Homo sapiens: one gene and its partners. The protein of the gene in region 7 interacts with the protein of the main gene of each other region in a pairwise test. Each region holds a gene or a part of one and is shown on either strand. Other genes may lie near its edges. The genes, in order: NDRG4, AIG1, C3orf52, CMTM3, OLFM4, PLP1 and LEUTX.

Region 1 (4,744 bases), on a different chromosome or scaffold from region 7:
GCTTCACCATGTTGGCTAGGCTGGTCTCGTATGCCTGACCTCAGGTGATCAGCCCGCCTTGGCCTCCCAAAGTGCTGGGATTACAGGCGTGAGCCACGGCGCCTGGCCAGGGCTTCATTCTCTATAAAAGCAAAAAAACAACATGCTTAAGATTTTAAGATGTTTAATACTCAATTTTGCACTTCAAAAATATATTAAGAGCTGATTCTGTTGAAAGAGCGTGTGTGTGTGTGTGTGTGTGTGTCTGTGTGTGTGTAGGGGTGGAAACAATGATAGAGATTCTAAATAAATCCAAGAACTGTGAAGGGTTCAGTGAGAGGAGGACAGGCAGGGGCATCTGGACATGGGTGTGCATGCACAGACCCGGCTGTAGCCGGGTGGCTGATCAGCAGCACCTTGAAGACTTTACAGAGTGTTTCTGCCATCTGCACCCATCCTGGCCCCGCCCGGCCCTGTTTCCCCTCTTACTGCAGCTCATCTTCCCCGACCTGGTGGAGGGGCTGGTGCTGGTGAACATCGACCCCAATGGCAAAGGCTGGATAGACTGGGCTGCCACCAAGGTGTGTGTGGTGACCGGGGGTGGGGTGGGTATACCTAGGGTGGGGTGAGGGGCGGCACTCACGCTGGCGCCCTGCTCCCTGCAGCTCTCCGGCCTAACTAGCACTTTACCCGACACGGTGCTCTCCCACCTCTTCAGCCAGGTAAGGGGGGGAACTTCTGCAGATCTGGGGTGATCTGGGATTTGCCCCTCCCAGCTGGCTCGGTAGGAGGCAGGCGGGTGTCTTTGGCATCTGACCTGGCTCACTCCAGATGCTAAGCCATCTGAAAGACAGACATCCCCTCCCAAGGCCCCACACCTCCTACCTGCCCCCACCCTGTCTCCCCTGCCTGCTGAGTGGGGCAAGGGCCACTCTGGCAGTGACATCTGCCAGCCCCCTCTAAGCCTGCGTCCCTCTGTCTGCCCCTCTGCATGCCTCCATCCATCTCCCTGGGCCTAGGAGGAGCTGGTGAACAACACAGAGTTGGTGCAGAGCTACCGGCAGCAGATTGGGAACGTGGTGAACCAGGCCAACCTGCAGCTCTTCTGGAACATGTACAACAGGTGCGGGTGGGATCAGCAGCCCTGGGACCCAGCACACCCCAGTGGGGGCCCTTGCACACTGCCCCCTGAGGGAGGCAGGCAGACAACACCCTTGCCCTGGTTTGTAGATGGGCACGATATTGGGCCTCAAAGGAGGTCATTTCCTGCACAAGGTCACACCCTGTGAGGGGCAGAGGGGAACAGGGTTTCAGACTCCGGGCCTTGGGCTCTTCCACTTTTCCTCCTCCCCTGGGGGCTTCCCGCTTGGGAATGTTGGGGGTGTTAGTGACATCCCTGACTCCAGTAACCCAGCCTTGATGTTGACGTCTGCAAAATGAGGAAGAGGTCGGATGAGCCTGTGGTTTTCAAGCTGTGCTCCTTGGAGCCCCCTTTAGGGGCTGCCCTGCCCTGCAGGAAGGTGGCCAGGCCCCCTCACTCACGTGCCCTCCTTCTCATTCTTCTACAAATATTAAGCACCTGCTGTGTGCATGGTGCTAAGAAAACAAAACAATAGAGAATAGAGAGACCCAGGGCCTGCCATCCCATATGGTCCAGGAGACAGGCCAGTAGCAGAAACTCCCACAGCACAGGTGGCGGTGCGCATGGCTCTGAGGGGGATAGAGAGCAAAATTTGAGAGCCCACCTGGTATGTGCTAGGGAGTCCAAAAAGCCGTGACAGGGAGCCTCCAGTTCATTTATGCAGAGCAGGTCCACGCCTCCCTGCTTTACCAATTGGCAGTGTTGGGCTTGGGATGCCCCTCATCCTGTCCTGGGGTGCCCACCTCTGCCTCTGCCCCTCCCCCTGCCCCACAGCCGCAGAGACCTGGACATTAACCGGCCTGGAACGGTGCCCAATGCCAAGACGCTCCGGTGAGTGGCCCCTGGCCCTCTGGCCTGCCCTGGCCTTTGCCCCCATGACCCAGCCAGACAGCCCTTTTCCTCTGTATCTGCAGCTGCCCCGTGATGCTGGTGGTTGGGGATAATGCACCCGCTGAGGACGGGGTGGTAAGTGAGGGGCTGTGGGCTCACTGGGGGTGGGAGGTAGGGGTGAGGGGCTCACTGGCCCCTGCCCAGCAGGGACAATTCTTGATCCAGCCCAGGGGAGCCTCCAGGGCCAGCAGTGGACGGTGGGCTTCTTGTCCACTTTCCCACAGTCTTGCCAAGCCTCACATCTGGCATAGCCCCCATCCTTCTGGCTGGGGAGGCCTGGAAATGGGGAGAGCTGGGGCCAGGGCTGGGCCATCAGAAGGTCCCCTCTTCCCTCCCCAGCAGCACAGCCCCAACTTGGTCCCTACCCACCTCAGGCCCAGGGTGTACGATCTTTTTTCTAAAATGTGATCAAGCCATTATAAATCATTAACGCATACAGCGGCACGGTCTCCCTTTTCCCGTCACCTGCAGCGGTTATGTTTGGGGGCCGTGTGTCACCTCTCCTGCTGGAACTCTGGGAGCAGGTGGCCTGAGGCTGGGATGCCCCATCAGCACAGAGCTGCTGGGAAGCTGCAGGGTCCAGAAGTGCCCAGAGCAGCCCCGTGCGCCCTGAAAATACCAGGCTTTCCCATGCCCACTGGGAGGTCCTGGAAGAGCAGGGTGGTGGGCTGTGCCAGCCCCCTCCACCCAGTCTCTCTCAGACCCTCGGCACCCCTCACCTCACTGCCGAGGGCACTGGGGCTTTCCCAGGCCAGTCCCACCACGGCAGCCCAGCCCTCGCCTGACTCCCACTCCTAGCAGTTGTGAGTGGGCTCCAAGGGTCCCAGGCCCTTCAGTGGGGCTGTTAAACTGGTCTCCAAGAACATGGGGAGCCCTGGGAGAAGAAAGCCTGGGAGGAGCAGCCTGTCACAGCTGCTGGGCCTCCCTCTGCCTCCCTGCACCCCCTCTCCTCCCCGAGCTTGGGGCATCAAACCTGCCTTGGCAATGGGGGTGGGGAGGGGCAGGGGCTGTTGCTGAAGCTGGCTCCTTGTCCTCAGGTGGAGTGCAACTCCAAACTGGACCCGACCACTACGACCTTCCTGAAGGTGAGGCTTTCTTCCCCAGCCCTGGGCCAGCTTCCCTAGCATGGGCCCAACCTCAGGGAGGTGTTTTCCTGGGGTCCCAGCCAGGGTGGGAGCTTGTCCTGGAGTGAGGGCCCTGCTCAGGTCACCCCACTCTCTCCCTTGCAGATGGCAGACTCTGGAGGGCTGCCCCAGGTCACACAGGTGAGACTTTTGGCCCTCCTGCCCTTACATCTATGGGGAGGGGGAAGCCTCTACCCTACCTGCTAATCCTAGGCAGCCAATGAAAGCATGTGCTTGTCCTGCCCTCCGCAGCCAGGGAAGCTGACTGAAGCCTTCAAATACTTCCTGCAAGGCATGGGCTACAGTGAGTACATTTCCACCCCACCCCACACCACCTAGAGACCGGTGGGCAGGCAGTGCTGGGGTTGGGGCTCCTGTTTGCAGGGCTGGCACGTGGTGTCAGGTGGTAGTAGGGAGCCCATAAGCATAGGAGTTTTGTGTGACCTGGGCCCCGGATGCTGGGCCCCACAGATGCCACCTGAGTTGCAAGTTGGCCATCCCAGGCTGTGCCCAACTCCCCTTTGCCCTTAGGGAGGACTTGGCGCACTGTTCTGATGGCAGTGCTGGGCCTACTGGGGGAAGGGACTCTTCCTTCCGTGCTGGGGGTCCAGGGCCAGGGGCCGTGTCCTGCCAGGGAAGCCTGTCTGGGGGTGAGGCACACTCCCCTCACCCGCCCCAGGGCTTGGGGTCAGAGCTGGGTCTATGGCACCTGAGAAGGCCTTTTGAAACAACTCATGGCTGCACCCAGGGGCATCATAGGAGTGGGCTTGGAGTTTGGGGCCAGGGAAGGCAACTGGGGCCGCCTGGCATTCAGAGAGCTGAAAGCAGCTGAACCTGGCTTGGCAGATCTGAAAATCTGGGTCTGGGGTGGAACCAGGTACACACACACAGACACACACACACACACACACAACACACCCCTTGTGTGTCTCCTTGACTTCCCCCTTCCCTCCAAGACATACCTGTTCCTCCAGGTCCCCACTGCCAGGAGGCAAACTTCCTCTTCTCAGTTTGTTTTTTGTTCCCCTCCAGACTTCAGCCTCTGGAGCTATCTCCAGGGCAAACAGGAGGGCTGCCTGTGGGAAGGCTGGGGAGGACACCCAGGAATAGAATGCTCTCTGGAGCAGGGCAGAGCCCTAGGGCCCACAGGGAGGCTCCGCAGGAGCACAGAGTCTGGAATCAGGGCACAGCAAGCATTTGCGAGGTGAACGGAAGAACATTGTCAGGCGCTGAGACGCGTTCTCAGGGTCCTGGGGAGAAACTCCACCAGGCAGCCCCAAGCTGGGAAGGGCACAGAGCGGGCAGGCCTCCCCCATTCTGTATGCAGGAGACTGAGGCCTAGGAGAATGGTGAGGGGATAAGCACCCCACCTGTCAGGGCTTCCTTGGGCCAGAGATCCTTCTGGGGGCCACTGCTGGGTGGGCAGGCAGGAGTGGGCTTCCAGAAGCCTCTGGCCCTGCCCCCAGCCTCTCTGTGCCTGTCCTTTGTCCCATCTCTCTGGCTCATCTCAATGCCCTTGACTCAGCGGACCACGCTCTTCACTGTGTTGTGTCTCCCCCATCCCCGCCCCCTCTCCGGCTCTGTCTTCTCTCTTAGTTGCGTACTTGAA
Region 2 (4,744 bases), on a different chromosome or scaffold from region 7:
CACAATTCTTCCTCCAGGTTAGGAAAAAACATTATTTGAGCCTTCAAGTTTATATGCATATTTTAGGGTCAAGTCTGAGTCTCCTGAAGAAAAAAATTGCAATTTTACACTCTCTGTATAATATCCAAAACCCCAAAAAACAAAAAACAGAAAAAAATCCACCTAATTTTGTTCCCTGAGTACTCAATAAACTACTGGCCTTCACGTGGCAATGTGTGGTTTTGACTGGCAAAACTAAGTACCATAGTTACATAATGACATGCAGAATCTCTTCTCAAGGTATTTTATTTCCTATTTAAAATTAAGTCATGAACTAGAGACAAGAATATGTTTTATGATAAGTATGTAAATAAATATAAGACTAACTCAAATGCAAAATGTAGTATACTTAAGCAGCTTATTTTCCCTCTTTAACATTTTTTAAATGTCAAAAATTCTCAGCATGTCTAAAAGCAAAAATGGTATCGTCCAGGTACACTTGACTATTTCCTATTCTTTGAGCACCCCAAGCTTTTCCACATCTGAGACTTTATTTATCCTCATCTCTCTCTGGTTTTCTGAAATTCCTTTGCAATACAGATTTAGATAACAAAAAAAGTACCTAGATTATATTACCTTAAACTTCTACAAAAATGCCTTCACCTAGCCAAAATATAAGACCATGCCTTTGGCTTTCATAAAACCATCAAATAAGAAACATTAACCATAAAAATTTTTCTATATATTACACTAAAAACCAATCAAAGACATTATCTACTATGCTAACCAATGTTTTTTTTTTATTTTTATTTACAGACAGGATTTGGCTCTGTCACTCAGGCTGGAGTGCAGTGGCACTATCATAGCTCATTGCAAACTCGAACTCCTGGGCTCAAGTCATCCTCCTGCCCCAGCCCCCACATAGCTGGGACTACAGGCACATGCAAGCACCCCCAAATAATGTTTAATTTTTTGTAGTGGGAGCCTTGCTGTGATGCCCAGGCTGGTCTCGAACTCCTGGGTTTAAGCAAGCCTCCTACCATGGCCTCCCACAGTGCTGGGATTACAGGTGTGAGCCACCATACCCACCCTTAATGTTCTTTAAATAAATATCTGAGTGATAAATTACCTTGAAAAGTCAGTGCCTGGAAAGAACTGTATTTTTCCCAATAAATTGTTATACCTCCTTTCTTTCAACATAAGGACAATACAATCAAATGTGTATTGTTTTTCACCTTAGTTGCCCTGAAGATTATTTAAATTTGTTTCTCAATAGCAATAACTAACCCATCTCTCGTATCTGAAACATATCTTTCTTTTATTTTCAAATTGTAATTTCTTACATTTTTTTGTTATATCACAGTGAAAGTCAATCTGTAATATGTTTTGAAAATAGGCAGAATTCAGGCCAGGCGCGGTGGCTCACACCTGTAATCCCAGCACTTTGGGAGGCCAATGCAGACAGATCACTTGAGGTCAAGAGTTTGAGACCAGTGTGGCCAACATAGTAAAACCCTGTCTCTACTAAAAATACAAAAATTAGCCAGGTGTGGTGGCAGGTGCCTGTAATCCCAGCTACTCGGGAGGCTGAGACAGGAGAATTTCTTGAACCTGGGAGGCGGAGGTTGAAGTGAGCCAAGATCACCACTGCACTCGCCTGGGTGACAGAGTGAAACTCTGTCTCAAAAAAAAAACAAAGAAAATAGGCAGAATTCATATATTAAGACTGCTCTACAGGGTCCTACAATTAATCCATGTAAATGAAAAAACAATGCAACTTAGAGCAGCATTTATCAACCTTGAATGTGCATAGAAATCACCTGATGATCTTATTAAAATGCAGACTCTGATTCAGAAGCTCTGGGGTGGAGCTGGAGATGCCACATTTCTTACAGGCTCCCAGACAAAGTTGATCCTGCTGGTCCTCAGCCCGCACTTTGAGTAGGCAGGGCCTGAACAATATTCTGCCATGACATGAATGAAAAGCCAGTCTAGGAGGAATAATGGGTATGATACGGCCCTAAGAGAGGATGACTCTCAAAATGGCCAGTACTACAAACTAGAGCCAATGGGATTCCCAGATATGTTTCAATCTTTAAAAATCAAGATGTCTTACATCCATCATCAATATTTTAAGTTTTCTAAAAAATCCAGTTCATGGTTTTCAAAGAAGTTGATTCTGACTCATCTGTTAGACTCTACCATATACATATGAATAATGTTCTGGTTGATACATTTTTAAATTCCTATCATTTTGAATGTTTTTGGGAGGAGACAGGACAAGAAAAGAATACTCAATGAAAATTTGGGAAGAGAAAGCTTCCATTTACTTAAACATTTACTAAACACCTATTATACCCCAAATACTACTTTAAGACCTCAAAATACATTTGCCTTTTTCTTTTCATTTATTTATGTTGGTTTTATCCTAATTCTTCTTTATTATCTTTTGGGGCAATTATCATGTAACACACAGCATAATCATTTTGCTAGTGAATGAATCCACATCACTTGAAGAAAATTCATCAGCTGTGATATTGACTAAGAAAGTGTTAATATTTGAGTAACAGCTAGTTTAAATTTTCTTTCTTTCCAGCTTATTTCCAATTAAGTGTATTTCTTCTCCTGGCCTGACATGTTACTTAATGATAGTCTCTGAAATACTTCATAGTAAAGACCTAGTTTTTCCAAAGTTGTCCATGTCAGGCCTCTAAGCCGAAGCTCAGCCATTGTAACCCCTGTGACCTACACATATACATCCAGATGGCCTGCAGGAGCCAAGAAGTCTGGGGCAACCGAAAAACCACAAAAGAAGTAAAACAGCCAATTCCTGCCTTAACTGATTAACCAACATTACAACATTCCACCGTTGTGACTTGTCCCTGCCCTACCTTAACTGATCAACCGACCTTGTGACATTCTTCTTCTGGACAATAAGTCTTATGATCTCCCCACCATGTACCTTGTCACCCCCTTCTCTGCTAACAATAAATAACCACCTTTTACTGTAATTTTCCATTAGCTACCCAACTTCTATAAAGCAACCCCTTCCCCATCTCCCTTCGCTGACTCCTTTCTCAGACTCAGTCCGCCTGCACCCAGGTGAATTAAAAGCTTTATTGCTCACACAAAGCCTGTTTGGTGGTCTCTTCACACAGACACGCTTGACAGTCCAGTCTTTACAAATCCTCATATTGCCCACTGTTACACATATGTATGTCTCCTCCACATAATTTCATGGATGAAGTAGGAAAAAACTTGCATTTTTGTTAAAGCTAAAATTAACCAGTTATCTACTATACATAAAGGGCTAGCTGAGTCACTGCATTTATTTCATATAAGTACAAAAAGAGTTAAGTTTTTTTTCTAAGTCAGAGGCTTTAAAGCCAAGTATACTAGTTTTCTATTACTGTGGTAACCAATTACTATCAATTGAATGGCTTAAATGACACAAATTTATTATTTTACAATTCTGGAGGTCAGAAGTCCAAAATACACTACCATTAAGCTGTCAGCAGGTATGTGTTCCTGGAAACTCTAGGAGGAAAACCATTTTTTTGTCCTCTCCAGCTTCTAGACACCTCTCACACCCCTTGTCTCCTGGCTCCATCCTCCATCTTCAAACCCAGCATTGTCGTATCTCTCTCTGACTTTCTTCCAGTCACATCTTCCTCCAACAAGCTCTTGTCTTCTGTTTCCCTATTCCTTTTAAGGACCCTTGTAATTACATTGGGCCCAATGGGATAACTCAGGATAATTACCCTATTTTAAGGTCAATTGATTTGCAATCTTAATTCCATCTGCAACTTTAATTTCCCTTTGCCATGTAACCTAATGTATTCACAGGTTCCTGGCATGAGAATGTAAACATCTTTGGAGGCCCATTATTCTGCCTACCACACCAAGACAGTGTTCTTTTTCCATTTACTAACTTCAATTTTCCAAAAACACCTTAGTTCTCTTACAGTTTCTCAATACTAGGAAAAGAAACCATTGGAGAATAACAGTATAAGATTACTGGTAGCAACAATGTGTATTTCAGTTTTTGACCATAAGCTCTGAATCTACTGGAATGACCCTCATACCCAAGGAGAGAAATGAATACAGCCAGAATGGCCACTGCCACATAATCATCTGCTCCTGGATGCATAGAGCCTGAGATTCCTGACTCAGATCCTGGTAAACTGAAGCCATGGAATATGGAATCCAACTGTGGCTATCAGGATAAATGATTCCTGCAATCCAAGTTGGCTAGAAAAAAGGGCCTTCACATTACAATTTTAAAAAGTTAAACTCTTGCAAAATTACTCCAATAAACTTAGACTCATTAATATTGTACAAGGCACTAGGTAATAAAGTTTACGGTCTTTTTAACATTAAAAGTGAAAAGTAAAATGGCTAAATTATAGTAGCCTAATCATTTCATGCCATTACTGAGGATTGACAGGTTGGTTGTTTTAACAGCTGTACAATGCTTAAGCTCTAAGGATTCTAAATCTCAAATAATAAAAAGAATAACACTTTGCATGAATGTTTTTATGAATATATCTCAGACATACTTTCTCACAGGCACTCTTTGTTAAAGATAATTATTATGTTTCAATCAGGAGCCACAGAGTAAAAAATTACAACGCTGGCTAAAGGTCCTATACAATCTGAAGCTAAATATGAAGCAAAGTAAATGTTTCACATTTGAATCTACTGTCTGACTTCTGGGATAGAAAAAGTCCTGTATGGTGATTAGTATTTAAAACAGGCAAGTCCA
Region 3 (4,744 bases), on a different chromosome or scaffold from region 7:
AGGTTGGAAATACAGTCCAAGTGTGGACTGACCGATTCGTTTTCTGATGGCCAGCACCAAAATAAGAATGGCAGAGAAGGCCAGTCGCGGTGGCTCATGCCTGTAATCCCAGCACTTTGGGAGGTTGAGGCGGGAGGATCACGAGGTCAGGAGATCGAGACCATCCTGGCTAACACAGTGAAACCCCGTCTCTACTAAATATACAAAAAATTAGCCGGGCGTGGTGGCGGGCGCCTGTAGTCCCAGCTACTCGGGAGGCTGAGGCAGGAGAATGGCGTGAACCCGGGAGGCGGAGCTTGCAGTGAGCGGAGATCGTGCTGCTGCACTCCAGCCTGGGCGACAGAGCGAGACTCCATCTCAAGAAAAAAAGAAAAAAAAAAAAAAGAATGGGAGAGAAAGCAGGCCAGGTGGCCAGGTGTCGGTCAGGAGCGAGTCTCCTCGAGTGCCGGCTGCTGCTTTGTGGGATGGTGAACGCTGAGGAATGACTGAGGCGCAGTTGCACCCTTTGGCCGAACTCCCAATAATTGTTTAGCAGATGCTTTGTGTCCATTATCTCTAGTTTTTGCAACAGTCCTGTGAGCTAATTTACTATTTATATATTTTAAAGCTGAGGACTTTGGGGCCTATGAGTTTCAGTAGCTTGCTTAAAGCCACCTTGCCTTTAAGTGGTATATCTTGGTTTGGAATCCAAGTGTGTTAGATACAGACACATTTTTTCCCCATTGTATTCTGTTGTTTCCCATGGTCTCCATGAAAGAATTATCTAATGGTGGAGTGGGAAGTAGGAGAAGAGTCATGGGACCATATAGGGTAAGGTGGGGGCCCCTCTGTGACACCCTCATAAACCGGAGCTCTGCACAGTGATGTGGACAAAAGGGAAAGTTGGAGAGCTTTGTGGAGACACACAGCAGGGATTGGTTCTGGCTCATCTCTCTGAATTGCGTCTTTGAAATGGACTAGTGCACACCCTGAAGGGCTGTTAGGGTTAAGTGAAATGACGCTGGTGCTCAATAAACCATAGCAGTTGTACTTGTTTTCATTGACCCCTCCTCTGCCTCACTCCAGCCTTCTCACTCCAGCTTTGCAGCTTATTTCCTGTTGTCTCTTGCAGCTGTCCTTTCATTTCCCTTCCCAACCCTTTTTTACATAGAACCTAGGCCACAGCAGTAGCCTTGTAGCTTTTTCTTGGTGTTTCCACTCTAAACCACACATGATTTTCCCTTAATTTTCAACTCGGCTCTGGTGTTTCAAAACCTTCAAGTTTCCAGTGCACACCCAATTAAGTCCAATCTATTCTGGGACAGCTATCAACACCCTCTGAGTGTGCTCCCAGCCTTTCACTCTCTCTAATCTTAACTTTCATTATTTGCCTCTGAAACCCACATTCCAGTCGGCAGGCTAGTCTGCTGGCCGGTTCCATTACGAATCCACACTTTGGATGCTCTTTCCTGGGTTTGGAATGCCTTCAAAAATCCATCTTTCAAAATCCTGCCTATCCTCCCCACTTCAGAGCCCCCAGAGGATTTTCTTGCTAACTTCTTGATGAGGTTCTGTTCTGCCTCTGATCTCTCTTTTTGAAAACTTGATTCAGTAGAGTGTTGCCCTAAGGTCAGGGTCTTGCTGCCTTCATTTCTGTGTCTCTGGCACATCCTAGGTATTCAGAACTGTCTGTTGCAACACAATGACTGCCTCACAATCTCCCTCTGCCTTTCTAGGCTAACAAGGAAAGCCCCTGGAGCTCCTGTAATAAGAATGTGGTTGGAAGATGCAAACTGTGGATGATCATCACCTCCATTTTCCTAGGTGTCATTACAGTGATCATCATAGGCTTATGTCTTGCTGCAGGTAAGAGGATTTAGATGTGAATAAATAACACATTTTAAGAACTTACTTAAGGCTTGTGACTTACACTGAAATGGAAGATGTACTCATAGCCATTTCATTATTTATAATGTGAATTTAAGACCGGCTTGGAATATATTGTATGGGTGGGAGATATGCCTGATTCTTGTGTTTTTGTTTTCTGTTGTTGTTGTATTTTGTTGTTTTATAAGCTCCAGAAGAAATATAGAAACCAGTGTTTTACTTTAAACTCTGCTCATTGGATCTTGAAGAGGTTTCTTAATGTTTCAACTTACTTAAACACTGATTTATATTTTATTTATATCCTGATACCTGTTGATTTGAATTCTTTTTCTTTTCATTTGTTTGCTAAAAATAATTATACTTCATCTGGTGTGTCTGATATATTACTATGATGATAAAATAATAAATAATGTATTTGAAAGAGTTTTAAAAAACTTTGAAGAACCATGTGTCCATAAGCTGTCATTATTTTAACTTATTGTATTTATTTATTTTTTTTTTTGAGAGAAAGTCTTACTCTGTCACCCAGGCTAGAGTGCAGTGGCACGACTTTGGCTCGCTGCAACCTCTGCCTCCCAAGTTCAAGGAATTCTCATGCCTCAGCCTCCGAAATAGCTGGAATTATAGGCATGTGCCACCACGCCCAGCTAATTTTTGTATTTTTAGTAGAGACGGGGTTTTGCCATGTTGTCCGGGTTGGTCTTGAACTCCTGACCTCAAGTGATCTGCCTGCCTTGGCCTCCCAAATTGCTGGGATTAGAGGCATGAGCCACCATGCTTGGCCCAATTTTAACTTGTTTTAGAAATGACTGTTTATTTTATTAGTGTTGTATGTGTGTATAAAACAAAAAATGTATAGAATGCTAACTATATATGACTACATCTATTCCATATATTATTTCATGTTGTTGCTTATTTTGATTGAAAAATGATATATGTTCAGTTACCCATAAAACCCATCTGTAATATTAATATTTGGTCATATTTTCTTCTAGTCTTTTGTTTAGTTGCATTTCTAAAATAATTTGAGATTAGATTTCTTTATAGTCTTGTGGACTACCTTTAGGATTTTGATATTATGTTTAGATCATTTTGCCAAGTCATTAAAAATTATTTGTGAACATTATTATTTTTATGATTTGCATGATACAGTCTTCCACATCATTTAAAGTTCTTTAGGTAGTTACCAATTTTTTAATGATTATTAGTATTCGTTAAAGTTTTTACATCCTCCAGTGGACAATCATTTCAATTCAAAATGGGAAAGAAGAAAATTGTTTTTATTTATATGTGGGGGTGATGGTAGAGAGGGGCTCGACTGAGGCTGGGATACTCCCGAGCATGATCCAGCCTTCATGCGGCATGGGTTGAGTCCAGCTCCCAGTTACAAACCCAGTCATAGAATGAGAAGAAGAAGGGGTAACTCCCCAGTCTCTCCAGAGGGAGTTCTCAGGAATTTTCCTCAGAAACTACATTTTCCATTTACCGCTTGTTTCCCCTTCTCCCAACCCCTTAATTTCCTGTCTTAGAGTTTTGTAATTCCTGAAGGAATAGGAAAACTTTGATGACATCAGCCAACCTCCAGCACATAAGTTTCCTGGCCAGGCACCATATCTACGTATTTACTTAGGGCATTGTTCAGGTGTGTTGGATGACTGTTTGAGGATATAAGCTGGTGTTAAGGTAGGAAAAAGCTAATGAAGTGTGCTGCACCTCCTCCGTCATGCTGAGGACAATAGTTTTGGTGTGAGCATTGCCATACTTCCTATTCATATCAATTCCAACACATGGATGTTGAAAATGAGGTTGAGTAGCACAATCTTGTCCTGACATAACTAGTTGGTGCTATCCTAGAAGTTGATATTTGGATCCTGTTGGCATCTGGGGCCTATCATAAAGGATGATTCAAGAGATCTAGATGGTTTAATATTCAGGATTCTAAAGCGCAAGACCCAGGATCTGTCTTCCATTCTCAAAAAGTCATCTAACCTCTTCACCTCACAAAGAGCAGTCTGCAAGAGGAAGGTATTTCACTTCCTTCCACAGTTTTTCTGGAGATGTAAAAGGTTATGGGATAATATTCAGGGAAGAATTTTTTTAACACTTGTAGTGCAAACTTTATTTTTAATTTAACTGTAAATTTGTGTTCGAACATGTCAATGCTGTAAGAGAGATTTTTTCAAACTACTTTTTAAATCAAGGAAATACTTGTATTTTACTTGGCATCTCAGCTCTTAGGTATTTGATCCTGTGGGGAGAGTCATGTTAGACGTGGGGGTGGGGGGAGATACAGTAGGTTAAAAGGGGTGGGGCAGGGGCTCCCTTCTGTGACAGTCCCAGCCTCACCTAGAGCAGTTCCGTAGGCATTTTTTGGGGATGATCTTCAATAATCAGCCACTTCCTAATTGCCAAGCCCATTAATATGAATCAGATATTTGTGGAACTTTCAAGTACTGCATGGGAAATGTTGTCTGGGGATAAAAACACTGTTGGGAGAGTCAAGGGCTGTGCCTGTGGCTGTCTGGATTTACTGGGTGACTAAGGTTCCTCAGGAACTATATTTGCCATTCATTGCCTGCTTACCCTTCTCTAGACCCCTTAATCTCCTGTCTCAAGGCTCTGTAGTCTTCAGACTGAAGCTTGGAGGCGGAAGTGTTAACTTTTGTTCTTCAGTAGGCAGGTCTTTGCAAAACTACCCAGAAAGGCTGAGGAAGCTGAGAGGCTAAAGAAAAACTGACAAATCCAGTTACTCAGAAAGAAACATTTAACAGGGTTTTAGGAACAGAAGCCATGCGTTGGGCAGCAGTGAGAGGAGATGGTGCATTCCTGCACCATTACCCCAAAGGCCCAGGGCTTAAATACCACAGAAAAAGGGTAT
Region 4 (4,586 bases), on a different chromosome or scaffold from region 7:
AATGACGACAGTAAAACAGGAGCCGATAGAGGGAGGGATACAGTAGCTGAAAGCAGGCCCACGCTGGGTGTCAGCTGGCCCGAGGCTCTGGAGGGGACACTAGAGCTGGGTACTGACAGATGGCAGTAGAGGAGTGTGCAGGCAGAAGAGACCAGGCCGGTGTAGGGAAGAAGGCTGAGAGCAGAGACAGCAGGCGCTTCTGCCTGGGGAGATGCTTCTCTGGACCAGGCGGATGTGCCCCTGTGCTGGCAGTGCCTGTGGCTGGACAGGTAGACAAGGGCAGCTCTGGAAGGGCCTGCAGGCCCCACCCTGTGGTTGGGATCTTCCCTAGGCAGGACCAGTAGGTTAGGCTTAAGAGCCACTGGTTTCCTAACAGCCAGGTGCTGGGGCCATGGGGATTTGTGAATCCCAGAAACCGTCCTTCTGCTGAAAATGAATGCCACTCATCCCATCCCGTCCCTTGGCAAATATTAGGTTAGAGCTCCCAGGCGGTTTCCTCAGGCTCTGCAACCTGCTCCCAGTTGCCCGCAGCAAGTGATCCCAGACAACCAGCCCAGGGACCAATTAGTAAACGTCAGTGGAAACTTGGGTGGTTTTATTTTGTTTTTTTTGTTTTACTATTTGGAGAGTTTCACATATGTAACAATTATTTTGCTGTAAAATTATTCTTGACTTATATGTTAGAATTGAATATAGCAGCCAGGCACAGTGGCTCACGCCTGTAATCTCAACACTTTGGGAGGCCGAGACGGGTGGATCACTTGAGGTCAGGAGTTTGAGACCAGCCTGGCCAACACGGTGAAACCCCATCTCTACTAAAAATACAAAAATCAGCCAGGCATGGTGGTGCCCGCCTGTAATCCCAGCTACTTGGGAGGCTGAGGCAGGAGAATCACCTATGGGAGGCAGAGGTTGCAGTGACCTGAGATCAAGACATCGCACTCCAGCCTGGGCGACAGAGTGAGACTCCATCTCGGGGGGAAAAAATTGAATATAGCAAAACCCACAAAATCTGACGAGTGCAGCCCAGGAACCGGAGTGAGGGACAGAGCTGGGGTTTAGGGACTAGGCTGCCCACACCCCAGCCCTGAGCCCAGCCATGAGCCAGCGACAGCTCATGGGGACTGACTGGGGTTCTGAGAGACAGAGGCTGGCCAGGGAGGGGATGAGCATCAGGAAGTAGCAACCAGCACTGGGGTGGGGTTGGGGGTTAGTGACTCTGGTGCTTTTCCTTCTGGGGTGGAGGTTCCAGAAGGCTCTACAGAGCTCCGAGACAGAACTGGGATTTCAGGAACCCTCGAGGTACACCTCATAGGCAGGCCCTTACCATTATAAAATTGTTTCTGATTACAATATTAAACAAGGATTGGGGGAGGGGGATTGAAGATATAAAATGGCTAAAAAGAGGCTTGCTGATTTTCCAGTATATTTTAGTTTGGGGGACAAGAAAATAGCTGTCCTCACCTTGTCCTGCTGAACCTGGGGGTGGGGGTAGAGCTGGAATGCAGAGGTACAGCCCTGACCCACCCAGCTGAGAAAAGCCCAGGGAGACTCCGGAGGGGCTGGGCCTGAGGAAGGGGCACCTGGGCTTCAGTCTTGGGGTGGAAACACCCCCACCTGCACCCGCACCCACACCCTGGAGGTGCAAGTGGCTTCTGCGGCCGGGCACGGTGGCTCACGCCTGTTACCCCAGCACTTTGGGAGGCTGAGGTGGGTAGATCACCTGAGGTCAGGAGTTCAAGACCAGCCTGGTGAAAGCCCATCTCTACTAAAAGTACAAAAATTAGCCAGGTGTGGTGGCACACGCTTATAATCCCAGCTACTCGGGAGGGAGGAAGTTGCAGTGAGTCGAGATCCCGCCATTGCACTCCAGCCTGGGTGATGAGCAAGACTCTGTCTCAAAGACAAAAAACAACAACAAAAAAAAAAGAGAGAGAGAAAGTGGCTGCTGCCTGTGGAGGGCCTCAGGCCCGCGGCCTGCCCTGATGCCAGCGATCACTGGGAACGGTAGAGTCAGCTGCAGGAGGCCTGCACCCAGGCTCCTGCCAGCAACCCAGCTGTGCTTCCCCAGAGACCGTTCCCAGGCACCGCTGCCCTGAGCCTCCTGCCAAGCATCCTCTCTGCTTTCCTTTCAGAAGAGAATTCCGACTCGGACTCTGACTGAAGGCCTGGCGGGTGCCTTGGCAACCTGAGCCACACAGGCCTCCACCCCTGCGCCTCACAGGGGTCGCTGGCGTTGGAGCGGAGGCCTGGACTTCTGAGTTGCAGAGGGGGCTGCGGACACAGCAGGCCCCCTACAGCCTCAGGTTCTGCCTGAGCCCAGCCTACCAGGCTTGCCCCTCAGCTCAGCACTGTTGACCACGCTGCGTATGAGGGCATCTTGGGTATCCCACTCCTTCTCCCCATTTCTGTCCCACAGGCCTTCAGCCCTTTAACGTCTCTGCCAAAAACCAGCACAAGGAGACAAAGCAGAGCCTTGTCTGTATCTGGGCAGCAGGTGTTCCATGCTGCTAGGTGGCGGGGGTCGGGGGTCTTCTGTTTCACTAACAGGAACAAAGACAGAAACCATGACAGGGCTGCCCCGCCAGGCCCCGGTGGGTTTGTCTGCACTTGGTGCTCCTGCCCACACCAGCCACTTTGGTGACAATGACCCTTCCAAGAATCTTTGGTTCAAGGAGCACCAGTTCCCTCTTCATTCTTGAAGCAGGGAGAAATTGACCTTTGCCTTGTCGCCCAGGAAGTGGGGCTCGGCACCCATAACTAACACCTCCCACCCTTGGAAACCATGTCTTCTGGGGGTGAGATGACCATTCTGGGTCTAAGACTGTTTCAAAGAAGAGCTCATAGACTGACTGGTCCAGAAGACAGAGGGTACAACAGTGGCATCACAGTGACAGTGTCATGGGGAGCTGGGCGGGCCCAGCCAAACCCTCCTTCTTCCTAGAGCCCAGCCAGCAGGCAGGAGTTCCTGGACCCTCAGGACAGTGAACTTCCAGACCTCAGGGCAGGTCTATGGGCCACTGCAGGAGATGAGACCAGCCTTCTGTGTTCACCTAACGATTTATACTGTGTATCTGTCTTTGATGGAATTTTGTAACTTTTTATATTTTTTTATGCAAAAGCAGCTTCTTAACAGATGGCATTTTCTGTGACTCTAGGCCTCACAAAAGAGCCAGAGTTCTGGACCCATGTTTGGAGCATTTGTAGCCTTATTCTCTTGCGTGTGAATCTCTTACCCTGAAAAAAAGCCATAATGAATTAAGCCAGACTGACCACTTGCTTGGAGTGTGTGCTTGAAAAAACCAGAGCAATACTGTTGGGTATTGTATCAGGCTTCAGTACAAACTGGTAACACCAATGTGGATCCTGACAGCTTTCAGTTTTAGCAAAAATACACGTGAAATCTGACTACCATTTAATCCTTTATTTCCCTAACCTTTTTGGCACCAGGGACCAGTTTCGTGGAAGACAGTTTTTCCATGGACTGGGGGTTGGCGGGTGGGTTGGGGTGAGGGTGGGAGGGGATGGTTTCAGGATGAGACTGTTCTATCTCAGATCATCAGGCATTAGATTCTCATAAGGAGCACACAACCTAGATCCGTAGCATGCACAGTTTACAATAGGATTCGCATTCCTATGAGAACCTAATCCCACTGCCAATCTGACAGGAGGCAGAGCTCAGGCGGTAATGCCGTTGCTTGCCACCCACCTCCTGCTGTGCAGCCTGGCTCCTAACAGGTCCCATGGTACCAGTCCACTGCCCAGGGGTTGGGGACCCCTGCTCTAGTTCTCACACTACCCTGTTTTATAAACAAAGAAACTGAGACAGAGGTCGGGTAACTGGCCCAGGGCCCTCTCACTTACACATCAGGATAGTGTCTCACGGCAGCCTCAGGCAGCCGGAACCCTGGGGCTCTCCTGGTTTGGAAGCTGGTTGCATAACAGCCCAGAGGACTACAGCCCTGGAGGACCCGGGTCCGCATTCTTATCCAGGCTGATGGGAAAAGACAAGACATTCCACCCAAACTGTCACACACCACATGTGCTGAAAATGGGTAAGAAAGCTGGGTGTGCAGGAGTGGAGAGGCCCCTGGTGGAATTTACATTCCACCTTGTAAGCCCTGGCAAAGCGGCAAAGCTGGTGTCACAGAGGCCTTGTTCCACCCTGAGGATCGTGGCTCTGTTCAACCTCCACACAGCAGCCCTATTTCAGGAACTGGATCCGTAACGTTTAAGGGGCAGAGGAGGCCACTCAGAGTGAGGAGAGACAACGACATCCTTACACGTCCATTTATTAAACAAGTTCCTTCATGACAATTTAATACAATAGTTATTAACGATTAGTGTTGAGAAAATTATTTCCCTCTACATACAAAAATACAGATTTGAACACTATGAAAAAGATCAAGACAAGTACCATGAAAAACTGGTCCTTCAAATGAAAGGGGGAAAATTGAGGGCAATGTGAGGCTTTGCCTGCTGTCGGGGACAAATCAATAGCAGCAAAGCTTTGGGGCCCCAACCCACTCCATACATACAGACTTGAACCCAAAAGCCAGGCCAGCCAGGGGACGCCCACCCAGGGC
Region 5 (4,616 bases), on a different chromosome or scaffold from region 7:
GGACAACGGTGGGGAGAAAATGCATTGCTTAGTATCCAGGGAAGAAAACAAGTGAGCCTGTTGGGTTGTTTTTGTTGGATTTTTTTTTTCCCAGAACTTTCCCCTAGGCCCTCACACTTAGACTTCTGTGATCCATCCTAGCCCAGCTGTGTTGTTTAAGCAAATTGGACCCAGATTTTTACTCACTTTCCCACAACCTTGGCTGTACCTGAATCCCTGCCAAGCCACTTGGCTCTCTTCCAGCTTTGTTCATATTATATTTATGATGTTTATATTAAACTGACTTTTGGTCATGTTTTTAAATCAATTTCTTTCACTTGCTCTCTTTCTGTTTGGATTGGTTGATAATGCAGAATTGGAAAATCCCCAAGCACCACAAACTTGTGAGCCTGTGGAGACTTTAATTAAAGTTATTCTCTATTATGGGACTTTAAAATCTGGCCTGTCTGCTTTTTTCACTGCAGAGTTGCACAGAATAAAAAAGACTATATGCAAGTCTCAGCTCTAAAGTAACTCTGCGCTCTCTGGGCCCCCTCCCTTATAGCTACAGTTTGCTGACCCAGTGGTCAGCTTGAACTTAGAACAAGTGAATGTATCCCAGGTTCAATAAAATATGCTTCCTATTTGGTTTTTGCTACAAACAACGTCCTTTTTCTGCCTCATTTCATAGAACTTTCTAATCTAAAATAATTGGCCTTCTACTCATTAACTTTTTTCCCTTAAAACTTCAGTCTGTCTCTGTTTTGCCTGTGAATCTAAATGACTGTATATAGGCCAAATGTGATCGGGTGCTCAGGGGTTGATCTCCAGTTTGCTTGGGGATGCAAGGTTCTGTGCTGGTCCATAGTGATGCTCAGTAAGTAGCTGATGATTAAATGGGGTCTGAAAGAAATGGGGTGACCTGCTAAAATCTCAAGCTTAGGGAAGAGCCACATGTTGAACAGCATATATCCAACACTTCAGAGTCAATTTAGTCTTAATCATTTTATGACTATGATTGTTTTAATTGCCTAATTCTTATAAGTCAATCATATTCTCCTCCTGGCTCAAACAAAGTTCAGTTGCCCAGTTGAGAGAGTGCATTAATAGATCCAAGACTAATTTTCCTCTGTAGGCATATAATTATTGGCTTCAAAAAAATGCTACTAACCATGATACTTTTAAAAAGCCAAGTCAGAATATTTTAAATTCTCATGATTATGGCTTCCTCAGGTATTTTCAGAGTACCATGGTGCCATCTAATGAATTGCATGATGAAGAGAGTGCCAACCAAGGCTAAACTTCTATAGAGGGTTCCTCAAATTATGTTCCATGGAGTAAATGCCAGGCTTTTTGAAAAACCAGATATGTAGCAGGGTAGAAGGCTAGTGTTTTATAAATAAGGGTAAGCTGAGTTTAGGTGACTTGATTAATCTTTCATTCCTTTATTCCACAAACATAATTTGGTGCCACTGTGTGGCTGGCCCTGTTCTGGGTACTGGGGTTACCAGCATGAGTAAAGAAACCTCCAGAAGCCACTATCTAGGAAATGAGACATCTAAACCTCCAGTTGTAACATGATGTGATTATATTGAGATATTTACCATTTACTGAGTAACATTTACATGTCTTCTCTGTATTTTTCGTAACTATTTTGCAGAGTTGGTATTATTTTTCTTCTGACATGAGGAAACTGAGGCTCAGAAGGTTAAGTAACTTGCTCAAGGATACACAACTACTGTTGGAATCAGGCTTTGAATTAGAATCTGTCTAGTAGTATTTTCCATACTAGGCTGCCTTCCATAGCTGCTCTAACAGAGAGGTGCACCTGTGATTTCTGGAGTGAAAAGAAAATTCCAACAACTCACCTATCTGCTTAACACCAAATTATTTTTGCTTCCTTGGTAGTGGAGTAGGTAAAAGGGTACTGTTGCTCCTGACAGTTCTGTGCTGTGTGTTCTCTTCCACCAGAAAATGCAAAATGATTCAATGGTCTTTCAGAATTCTTGGATCATGATTGGGCAATGGGCTGTTGCCCAAGTGTCAGGGTGAAATTGGGATGGAAACTGGGTATGAAGTATGGAATGAAGTATGTCTAAGACCTTGACATGAAGGAAGGGGCTGGCAAGGAGCATGAGATAAGGGAGGGTGGTGAGAAGCTCAGTGAAGATGGGATGGGGGGATGGGGACTCTGAGGAACAGTGGGCACTGGACTGGCTGTCAGTTTCAGTATCGTGTCCAAGATGGTTTGCTGCCAGGAGTCGAGGAAGCCCGCCATAGCATTTTTCCTGGTCTGACATTGTTGTGGCCACATTTGTAGCATTGGCAGCAATGTTGAGTTCTCATCCCCATTTCCACTTCCTTTCTACCACAGCCGGGGCCCTAAAAATAGCCCTTTATCCTTACCCATAGAGGATAAAAGGAGGATAACAAATGAACAGGAAAGTGTTTAGGAATGTTTGGGAGGTGAGAAAAACAAAGTTTCATACATTTTAATATTTACACTGGGCAATTTGAATTTTCTGGTCAACTTATGAAATGATGAGCCACTATTACTATTAGTAGTAGTAACAATAGTAATAGTACTAATACTATTATACTAATAATAATGCAATTAGTTTTATGATAATAGCAGTAGTAATAGTAATTTTTTGAGAAGTTTATTTTGGTTCCTTCATGTCTAAAAATTTCCACATCTGGGGACAGAATAGTTTAACCTCTTGGTAGTGCTTGAATAAGTTATATGCATCATCAATTTTCCTTAAATATTTTGTTGCTGTCGGTTTGGGATATTTTCTTTTCAGGAAGGCAAGACTCAATGAAGCAAACAATTATTGTCTTCCAACCTGAAAGAAAAAAAAGTGACTTTCCTCAGAGTGAAATGTAGTTAAATAAATAAGTTCTCAGGAAGATACTTTAGCTAGAAAATCCAGTTTGTAGCATATGGAAACTTGAACAGTTTTTGTTATCATTAAACTGAACACACCGCTAACTTTATTTTAATAATTCATGCATTGTTTCATAAACAAAAGCAAACAAGCATTCATCTGAGAGATCACTTTTAGTAGAAGAAATAATAATTTATAATTTTATTTATTATTTCTTCAGTGGAGAATAGTCTCTTGGCTGAAAACACGTTGCTTTTTTATTTATGAAATGGCACATGCATTATTAAAATAAACCTGTGACTGTGTTCTGCTTAATGATATGCAAAATTATTTGAGGTTGGATACAGAGTGGTTTCATTTCTCTACCTGTTGTATGGTTGGCTGGCTTTCTCACCAACTGTGGATTTATGAGAGCATTTAAGGAGCATATATTTAATTCTGGGACCAAAAAGCCCCAGCCGATTGGAAAAATAAAAACAGAATTTCTAGTAATGGTTTCACCTTTGAGCAGTCCTTGGGTGAGGAGGATGGGGAGGGAAAGCATTTAGCAAGGAAAGGAATGGGTCTTTCCATATTGGACACAGCAGAGACCCAGAGACAAAGGCTTTGCTCCCCCTTCCCCGCCTCCATGCTAATCTCAGGCAATTCTTTGGAGCTCTGCTTTTGGCTCCAGCTCACCTCATGTTCCTCAATGGCTCTCTGAGTCCCTGCAAGTATTTCAGGCCAAATCCAACAATTCAGGTTCTGCTCCTTTCCTGTCTCACCTGCTCTGCTCTGAGCAGCAGGACGAGGGAAAATGACCTCAAATATACTTGAAGTTGGGTTTTCTTTGTTATCCAATAAACCATCTCATGAGTTTTTTTGAGTGTTAAGATCCCAGAAAATGTGTGTTCAACTCTTTGGATAGTTATTATAAAAATACTGGAGGAACTTTATTTTATTTTTATAGCTCATAAACTCCTGGGATGGCAGGCATTTCAGCGGGAGTACAATGTGAAGGGTTGATCGCCCAGACTGAGTTATTTACCCAAGTGTTACAGGGAATGTAGATTCAGTGGACCAGTGAATCTTGTCCCACTTGATTGTACACATTGTGACAATGACAGTGTCTGGATGGAAAGATGAAATACTTGCATGTCATTCTATGGCACAATAGCATATGGGTTATGAACAGCAGGACTCACCATGTAACTCTGCAGCAGGACGGTCAGCAAGTGATTTATTGATGGGCTGTGCATTGGGTACGGAGCAGGCAATGTTGCCCCAAAATAACTTTATGGCTTCTCAAGGGTGAAATCCCACCATTATAGGACCATCTTTCTGGATCTATAAAATGCTATATTTAAAACATCCTCTTCTGAGAATAGCTTAAAGCAGGATTGGTACCTGGCGTGGATGTGCAATTGGGGGTCCCAAGGAAGGGGAGAGTGAGGAAGGGCATGAAGCCTTGCCTGGGAAAATCTTCTCCCTCATCACTATTCTTTCTGGGATAGATTTCTATAAATCTTGTGGATTTATAGAAATAGGGTAGGATTGTGGAATAATCTTGCTTCCTTGATTTTGCTATAAGAAAAACAAAATAAGATAATATTTGCAAAATGCTTTCTGATAGAAGGAAATATATTAAATTCACCAAGTCTCCCTTTCCTCTCTCTGGGCCTCCAAACTTTTTAAATATAGTTCTTGCTGGTTTCATTATTCCTATTTTCCAGATTGAAAGCCCACCCATGGAAACAGAATGTAGTTCTC
Region 6 (3,446 bases), on a different chromosome or scaffold from region 7:
GTGAGGAAGCGATGGCTGCAGCCGAACGAGAAGGTCAGGAAGAACGTGGTGCCCAGCTGGCTTAGCCTCACCTTTCAAAGGTTCCCTAAGCAAATTTCTTCTCAAAACAGAAAGCATGAGTTTTGTGGGATGCTTTGTACAATCAGACCATTTCTAAGCCATCTGTTGGTATCCCTTTGTTCCCTTCCTAGTAGGTACCACAAGAGTGGATCTAACTGGACAAGAGTCTAAAATGCTGCTCATGTGATTGAGACTTGGGCACCTGATCTGAGAGGGAGGATGGATAATAAAAATTAAATAATTAACTCCAAGGTGAAATTTACAATGTTCTGGGATCCTGCACAGTTCGAGGTCCCAGAGGGAATTGGAGTAGATCTGCATGTTGAATGTTTTATTGCCTGAGGGTTATCCATGCTTTGAGTGAGGTGCACATTTGTTTTCAGTCTCTGGAGTTAAAGATCCTTTGGCGGCTGAACATGTGTGGGTTCCAGCAATGTCTTTTTGTGGCCAGCAGTTAGCTTAGAAAGGTTTTGTATCTGAAATTTTAATCTCCTATTGGCTTTGTTCAATGGCTAGGGAACAAAAATGTTCCTATGGCAAGGAACATGTTCTAAGCTCAGCCTAAGGCACAAAATGGCACGACTTTCTTTCAAGATCTGTTTTGATTTCTTTACACCTTATCTGCCCAAAAACATCCTCTGAAGCCTCTCTAACCCAGGGATCCTCCTCACTCTTCCCCTACCCATTCCCCCCACCCTCCGTTATACTGGGGCCAGTTATCTAGTAGATACTGCCAATTACCCTTGGCAGAGGTGCCCTGCTCACTAATTTCATTTGAAGGAGAGCCCTGGAACCTGGTTTTAATGTCTGGCACACGCCACTCCAGGATCTCCCAGTTTGTGTTTCTACATCTGCAGGCTGATGCTGATTTCTAACCACCCCATGTCAATCATTTTAGTTTGTGGGCATCACCTATGCCCTGACCGTTGTGTGGCTCCTGGTGTTTGCCTGCTCTGCTGTGCCTGTGTACATTTACTTCAACACCTGGACCACCTGCCAGTCTATTGCCTTCCCCAGCAAGACCTCTGCCAGTATAGGCAGTCTCTGTGCTGATGCCAGAATGTATGGTGAGTTAGGGTACGGGTGCTTTGGCTCTCCTACCCACTATGGAAGCACTATATATTTGGTTATTTTCTTAGTGTAAGGAGGGTGGTGATTATGAGAAAAATATAAGATGATGAATGATTGGGTCTTAGTTTATTAATCCTTCCCTACTGAAACCAGAGAGGTTTCTTCCCCGGGAAGGGAACTTGGAAGTGGTGGGAGTTTTCTTGGCCATTCACATTGGCCTACTCTAGTTGACTGCTGTTCACAACCCCAAAGCAGCACATTTCAATAACAAACACAAGGTTTCACCACTGTTCAATACCACCTTCTCTTTTTTGTAAACCTGTAGAAAAGAGGATCCTGATTGTTGGTAGAATCCAACTTTACAGCCAGGATAATTAGAGATGGAAGAAGGGCTCTGGGGGAAAGTCTCCATGTGGCCCCGTAACTCCATAAAGCTTACCCTGCTTGCTTTTTGTGTCTTACTTAGGTGTTCTCCCATGGAATGCTTTCCCTGGCAAGGTTTGTGGCTCCAACCTTCTGTCCATCTGCAAAACAGCTGAGGTGAGTGGGTTATTTGGGTTATTTTACAAGGGAGTAGCTAATACCATACAAATTACACCCATGGCCTTCAATTTTAAGGACTGAAAGTTTCCCTTTGCTGGATTTTGAATTAGCCGATTGCCTTCTACAACATGTTGGCTAAGTGTGCCTGAGCCAATGAGCATAGAAGGTAAAACACCTGTTTTCTCTAGAGTTGCATAGAAAGACTTCCTTTCCAACCCTTCCCCTCTTAAAAGAGAAGTTTGTAGCTTTAGGTAAAGATAGAGCCTAATGGCAAAATCCCCCACATGAAAATTTTCATTCCTTTAGTTAAAAACCATATCAAGAAAATGGGCTGTGCACAGAGGCATTCATAGGTTTTATGAAAACATTTTCAATTTGGAACTTCTTTATCTCAAATGAGAGGTAAAATAAGTACATTTGAAAGGGAAAGCACTGTATTGAGAACAGATATTATATACAAATGAGGCAGGGGAATAAAAGTAAATCCGGGGGAGACAGGCAGTAAATTATTTCTTTGACAGCAAAATGTTGACTTTAAATTTTGGGCCCCTGGGCACAACTGTAGGGAACCAGTTAATTATTTTGGAGTACTGTACTATTTCATGACTATTCTGTGATCTGGGTGTTAATGGGCCAGGTGCTATGGTGTACACTGAAGACTGGGAGGCCCACATTTAGGGAAGTGAAAACTTAGTTAGAGATGTGGAATTAGCACACAAGAAAGATATCAACACATTCAGAAAGCTGTATTCATGATTTACAGTGGAGCATATTACTGCTGTTGCAAGAAACAGTTCTTCCTCTTTCATTTTCCTGCAGTTCCAAATGACCTTCCACCTGTTTATTGCTGCATTTGTGGGGGCTGCAGCTACACTGGTTTCCCTGGTGAGTTGACTTTGAATGATCTTGGCAAGTAAATAGGCCTGAGATAGTGTGGGTACAGCTATTCTGAAAGGCAAGAAGGTAGACTGCTTCCATCCTTGAAATGCTGGAGGGAAGCTTCTGGGAAGATAGCAAAGGGTGGAGGCTCCGTACTTCTACTTGCATTGGCAAGGCAGAAAGACATCACAAATTAGATGGGAACAAGAAAAGTGGTATGAGGAAAGAGGTAAGAGATTCATAGACACGAATGATAATATTTAGTATTTATAGAACATGTAATGTTGCCAAGTACTTTGCAGTCATAAATTACGGTTAATTCTCAATACATTTTGATCAGATCAGTGACAAAACACTGAAACATCACGAAACATGACTTGCTATAGCCTGGAATTCTATATACTATCAATATGAATCCACTTTGGATACTCTCCAGTGGATTTAGTTACTCATATGGAAATACTGGGAGGACCTCCTAACATTATTAGAATTGTTATGATTATAATACAATGCTATGTCCCAGGTCTTGCTGATAGTGCTACAGTGCCCTGTGAATGTAGTGTGCTCATTGTGCAGATTAAAAACCTAAGGCACTGAAGGGTGAAGTGATTTATCTGAAGTTATTTTATAAGCAGTGATCAGACAAGATGAGCTCACAGAACTCCTGGCCCCTACTGCTGAGGTTTCCATACAGAGTCAAGTAATTTCTCACCTTGTAAAACGAATTGATTCATTAACCAGGGGAGAGCTCTACTGCATGATGTGGCTGTGTGTCTACAGCAAGCACCCTATGACTCTAAGTCACTCGGACATATTGATGTGGCAAAGCCCAAATATTGTTCACTTCCCTGAGGAAAACTCAGTGCTAGATCAAACAGAGGTGTGGAATAAAT
Region 7 (3,713 bases):
GGATATTAGTCATTTGTCAAATGTATAGATTGTGAAGATTTTCTTCTAGACTGTGGGTTGTCTAGAACTCTGCTGTTCCTTTTGCCATGCAAAATCTCTTTAGTTTAATAAAGTCCTAGCTATTTATCTTTGTTTTTATTGCATTTGCTTTTGGGTTCTTGGTCATTGTGTTGCTGTCTATCTCATTTCTTAGGTCTAGTGGATAAAAGGGCGTCCATTGTCTCCTAAAGTTTTTATTATTTTTTATTTATGCTCTCTATTTCACTGAAGATTTCTCCCCTCATTTCTTGTATCTTTTTTTTTAATTTCCTTAAATTGGGCTTCACTTTTCTCTGGTGCCTCCTTGATTAGCTTAATAACTGACCTTCAGAATTCTTTTTCAGGTATATCACGGATTTCTTCTTGGTTTGGATCCATTGCTGATGAACTAATGTGATTTTTTGGGGATGTTAAAGAACCTTGTGTTGTCATATTACCAGATTTGGTTTTCTGGTTCCTTCTCATTTGTGTAGGCTCTGTCAGAGGGACGGTCTAGGGCTCAAGGCTGTTGTTCAGATTCTTTTGTCCCACAGGTGTTCCCTTGATGTAGTACTCTCCTCATTTCCTTCCGAATTTTTTTAATGAAAGCCTTTTATCTGTTCCCTCTGCAGAAGGGCCAAGGCGTTATCGTCGGCCACGCACAAGATTTCTCTCCAAACAACTCACAGCATTGAGAGAATTGCTTGAAAAGACCATGCACCCAAGTTTGGCTACAATGGGGAAACTGGCTTCAAAGCTACAACTTGATCTATCCGTAGTAAAGGTCTGTTCCCAAGTGTGTCTGTAGGTAGCACGCCTAACCCAGAGCTTCACACACACTTTTGATCATTGTTATAACAGTTCCTATTTATTGGCAATTGCTATGTGTAAGGACAGATGTTAAGCACTTTATATTTTTATTGTCATGAGCACCCACTTTATTGAGGAACACTAAAGCTCACATAGAAGAGCTGTCTTCCAAGCATTATAAACACAAGAGTTGGAATTTGAACCCAGACCTTTCCAACTCCAGACCCACCATGCTACACAGGACTCTTTGAGGCTGGATCTCAGATACTCCCATTTGGGTCTGTTCTTGTGTATTCAGGATGGGTTCTGCTTAATCAGGACCATCACAGTCATCCAGATGCCTGTCACTAAGTTCCCACAAAGTATTCATGGGAGAACACCTGGATGAACCCTAAAGATGACCCAAGCTAAACTCTCACCCCATACTCTGACTTTAAAATACTTTCTCTGGGCACCAGGAATGGTGGCTCACACTTGTAATCCCAGCACTTTGGGAGGTGGAGGCAGGAGGATCGCTTAAGCCCAGTTTAAGACCAGCCTGGGCAACATAGCAAGACCATGTCTTTACAAACAAAAATTAAAAATTAACCAGACATGGAGGCACATGGCTGTAGTCCCAGCTACTTGGGAGACTGAGATAGGAGGATTGCTTAAGCCCAGGAGTTCAAGGCTGCAGCGAGCTATGATTGCAGCACTGCACTCCAGGCTGGGTGACAGAGTGGTAGCTTGTCTCAAAAAAAAAAAATACACCACTAATAAAAACACCCTTCTATTTAATACATCACAATCTAGGTCATATTCCACCCATTGCTAGTACAATCCTACACCCACTTTTCCCTTGAAACCCAGGACAGCAGAGAGTAGAAAGGGCTTCCCTTGTTCCAATAAATGTGAGACTCTCTCTCACACCAAAAAACCGAATTCCTGAGGAACATGAGGATGCCCCTTTATACTCAACATCCATTATTAACCTCCCCCCTCCTCCCTCCTTAGATCTGGTTCAAGAACCAGCGTGCCAAATGGAAGAGGCAGCAGCGGCAGCAAATGCAGACACGGCCATCACTAGGGCCAGCAAACCAGACAACTTCAGTGAAGAAGGAGGAGACTCCCTCAGCCATAACTACTGCAAACATTCGTCCAGTAAGTCCTGGAATCTCTGATGCAAATGACCATGATCTACGTGAGCCTTCTGGTATCAAGAATCCTGGAGGAGCCAGCGCCTCTGCGAGGGTTTCATCCTGGGATTCTCAGTCATATGACATTGAACAGATATGTCTGGGGGCTTCAAATCCTCCTTGGGCCTCCACTCTCTTTGAAATAGATGAATTTGTAAAGATCTATGACTTGCCAGGGGAAGATGACACCAGCAGCCTAAATCAATATCTTTTTCCAGTATGCCTTGAGTATGACCAGCTCCAATCTTCAGTGTAACTTCTTACACATCACTTCTAGGGGAGGTCTGGATCTGACCCACTGAGACATATTTCCACACATCTTTAATGGTTTGACCCCAGTCTAAGTAGATCAGGGGCTGGGAATTTATCTTTTTCTGTAGAAAAAACAATAAAGGAACTCCCCTACCTTTCATCATTGCCTGCATTTTCTGAACTCCATTTGAGTGCCTCCTCACCCAAATTTCAGCATTAAAGATTGTATTCAGAGAAGTGACGCCAGGAACACAGTGACATAGGAGGTTCCTGATTGATGGACTGAATAAACGTCTGTGCCTACATCAGTTCTCTCTGGAAGAAAGTCAGAAGTGAGTGGAGAGACTCCTACACACCAGGCAACTAAGAAAATGTCTTAGCAGGCCAGTCGCGGTGGCTCACGCCTGTAATTCCAGCACTTTGGGAGGCCAAGGTGGGTGGATCACGAGGTCAGGAGATCAAGACCATCCCGGCTAACATGGTGAAACGCTGTCTCTACTAAAAATACAAAAAATTAGCTGGGTGTGGTGGTGGGCACCTGTAGTCCCAGCTGCTTGGGAGGCTGAGGCAAGAGAATTGCTTGAACCCGGGAGGCGGAGGTTGCGTGAGCCAAGATTGCACCACTGCACTCCAGCCTGGGCGACAGAGTAAGACTCCATCTCAAAAAAAAAAAAAAAGAAAAGGAAGAAAAGACAAGAAAAAAAATGTCTTATCAAACAGGCAGCAAAAGCTGAAGCACTCAGAAACACTAAACCCACCCTGGGCACTGAGCCATACAATCAGGAAGGAATCCCCAGTTCCCAGCTTCTCCCCCAGGAGAGAAGCAGTGAACCACACATATAGCACCCTAACAGTTGATGGTTAAGTTCCTAACGAGCCTGCATCAGGGAGTTGACTAGGTAGGTAAACTACAGACTTACAAGAGCCTGAACAGAAGCTAGGTGCCACCCAAAGCTTCACCCCAGCTCAGCCCAGCAATAAATCCAGGTCTATCAATTCCTCCTGGAAGAAGTTTGTCCACACATTGAGCACCCCAACTTTTATACCTGCACTCAAGGGACTGCATCCTAAATCCCCTAGCTCTGGAAATGGAAGGGATTAGGCATATGTGAGTCTCCCTAGCTCACAGAGAAAAAGGTGGTTTTAAGCAGGCACACAAGCACTTCAGGGCTAGCCTTCCTCCACCACACTCCCCCAACCAGAGCAGTGCAGAGAAGGGGTCAAAATGTACAGCTCCCAGTTACTCCTCAAAAAGGATTTGCCAGCACACTCTTCCAGCTGCTGCTTGATAGTCATGCTTTTAACCAGCCTGTATCTGGAAGTCAACAGGGCAGACAAATGCTGGATCCTTGGGAGCCTGAATGGGAGTTCAGACACTGTCCAAGCCTTTTGCCCTTGCTTGCTCTAGTGGTAAGTCTACAGACTCTCCCTGGAAGGAGTTTTTCCATGCAGTGAGCA

The links.
Region 1: the proteins of LEUTX (region 7) and NDRG4 interact in binary tests that used the Homo sapiens proteins (3 or more experiments, as listed by UniProt).
Region 2: the proteins of LEUTX (region 7) and AIG1 interact in binary tests that used the Homo sapiens proteins (3 or more experiments, as listed by UniProt).
Region 3: the proteins of LEUTX (region 7) and C3orf52 interact in binary tests that used the Homo sapiens proteins (3 or more experiments, as listed by UniProt).
Region 4: the proteins of LEUTX (region 7) and CMTM3 interact in binary tests that used the Homo sapiens proteins (3 or more experiments, as listed by UniProt).
Region 5: the proteins of LEUTX (region 7) and OLFM4 interact in binary tests that used the Homo sapiens proteins (3 or more experiments, as listed by UniProt).
Region 6: the proteins of LEUTX (region 7) and PLP1 interact in binary tests that used the Homo sapiens proteins (3 or more experiments, as listed by UniProt).

Annotation. Positions count from the first base shown.
Region 1 is NC_000016.10:58,505,914-58,510,657, forward strand, and holds part of NDRG4 (protein NDRG4), read left to right. Parts: intron 1-473; coding exon 474-560; intron 561-644; coding exon 645-701; intron 702-998; coding exon 999-1,102; intron 1,103-1,894; coding exon 1,895-1,951; intron 1,952-2,034; coding exon 2,035-2,086; intron 2,087-3,048; coding exon 3,049-3,096; intron 3,097-3,240; coding exon 3,241-3,276; intron 3,277-3,387; coding exon 3,388-3,439; intron 3,440-4,731; coding exon 4,732-4,744. UniProt on the Homo sapiens protein: Contributes to the maintenance of intracerebral BDNF levels within the normal range, which is necessary for the preservation of spatial learning and the resistance to neuronal cell death caused by ischemic stress.
Region 2 is NC_000006.12:143,063,214-143,067,957, reverse strand, and holds part of AIG1 (androgen-induced gene 1 protein), read right to left. Parts: intron 1-4,744. UniProt on the Homo sapiens protein: Hydrolyzes bioactive fatty-acid esters of hydroxy-fatty acids (FAHFAs), but not other major classes of lipids. Show a preference for FAHFAs with branching distal from the carboxylate head group of the lipids.
Region 3 is NC_000003.12:112,091,645-112,096,388, forward strand, and holds part of C3orf52 (TPA-induced transmembrane protein), read left to right. Parts: intron 1-1,715; coding exon 1,716-1,845; intron 1,846-4,744. UniProt on the Homo sapiens protein: Has a role in LIPH-mediated synthesis of 2-acyl lysophosphatidic acid (LPA). LPA is a bioactive lipid mediator involved in different biological processes, and necessary to promote hair formation and growth.
Region 4 is NC_000016.10:66,610,474-66,615,059, forward strand, and holds the end of CMTM3 (CKLF-like MARVEL transmembrane domain-containing protein 3), read left to right. Parts: intron 1-2,135; coding exon 2,136-2,164; 3' UTR 2,165-3,414; downstream 3,415-4,586.
Region 5 is NC_000013.11:53,045,149-53,049,764, forward strand, and holds part of OLFM4 (olfactomedin-4 precursor), read left to right. Parts: intron 1-4,616. UniProt on the Homo sapiens protein: May promote proliferation of pancreatic cancer cells by favoring the transition from the S to G2/M phase. In myeloid leukemic cell lines, inhibits cell growth and induces cell differentiation and apoptosis.
Region 6 is NC_000023.11:103,786,840-103,790,285, forward strand, and holds part of PLP1 (myelin proteolipid protein), read left to right. Parts: intron 1-958; coding exon 959-1,127; intron 1,128-1,597; coding exon 1,598-1,671; intron 1,672-2,493; coding exon 2,494-2,559; intron 2,560-3,446.
Region 7 is NC_000019.10:39,783,877-39,787,589, forward strand, and holds the end of LEUTX (paired-like homeodomain transcription factor LEUTX), read left to right. Parts: intron 1-650; coding exon 651-802; intron 803-1,821; coding exon 1,822-2,259; 3' UTR 2,260-2,415; downstream 2,416-3,713.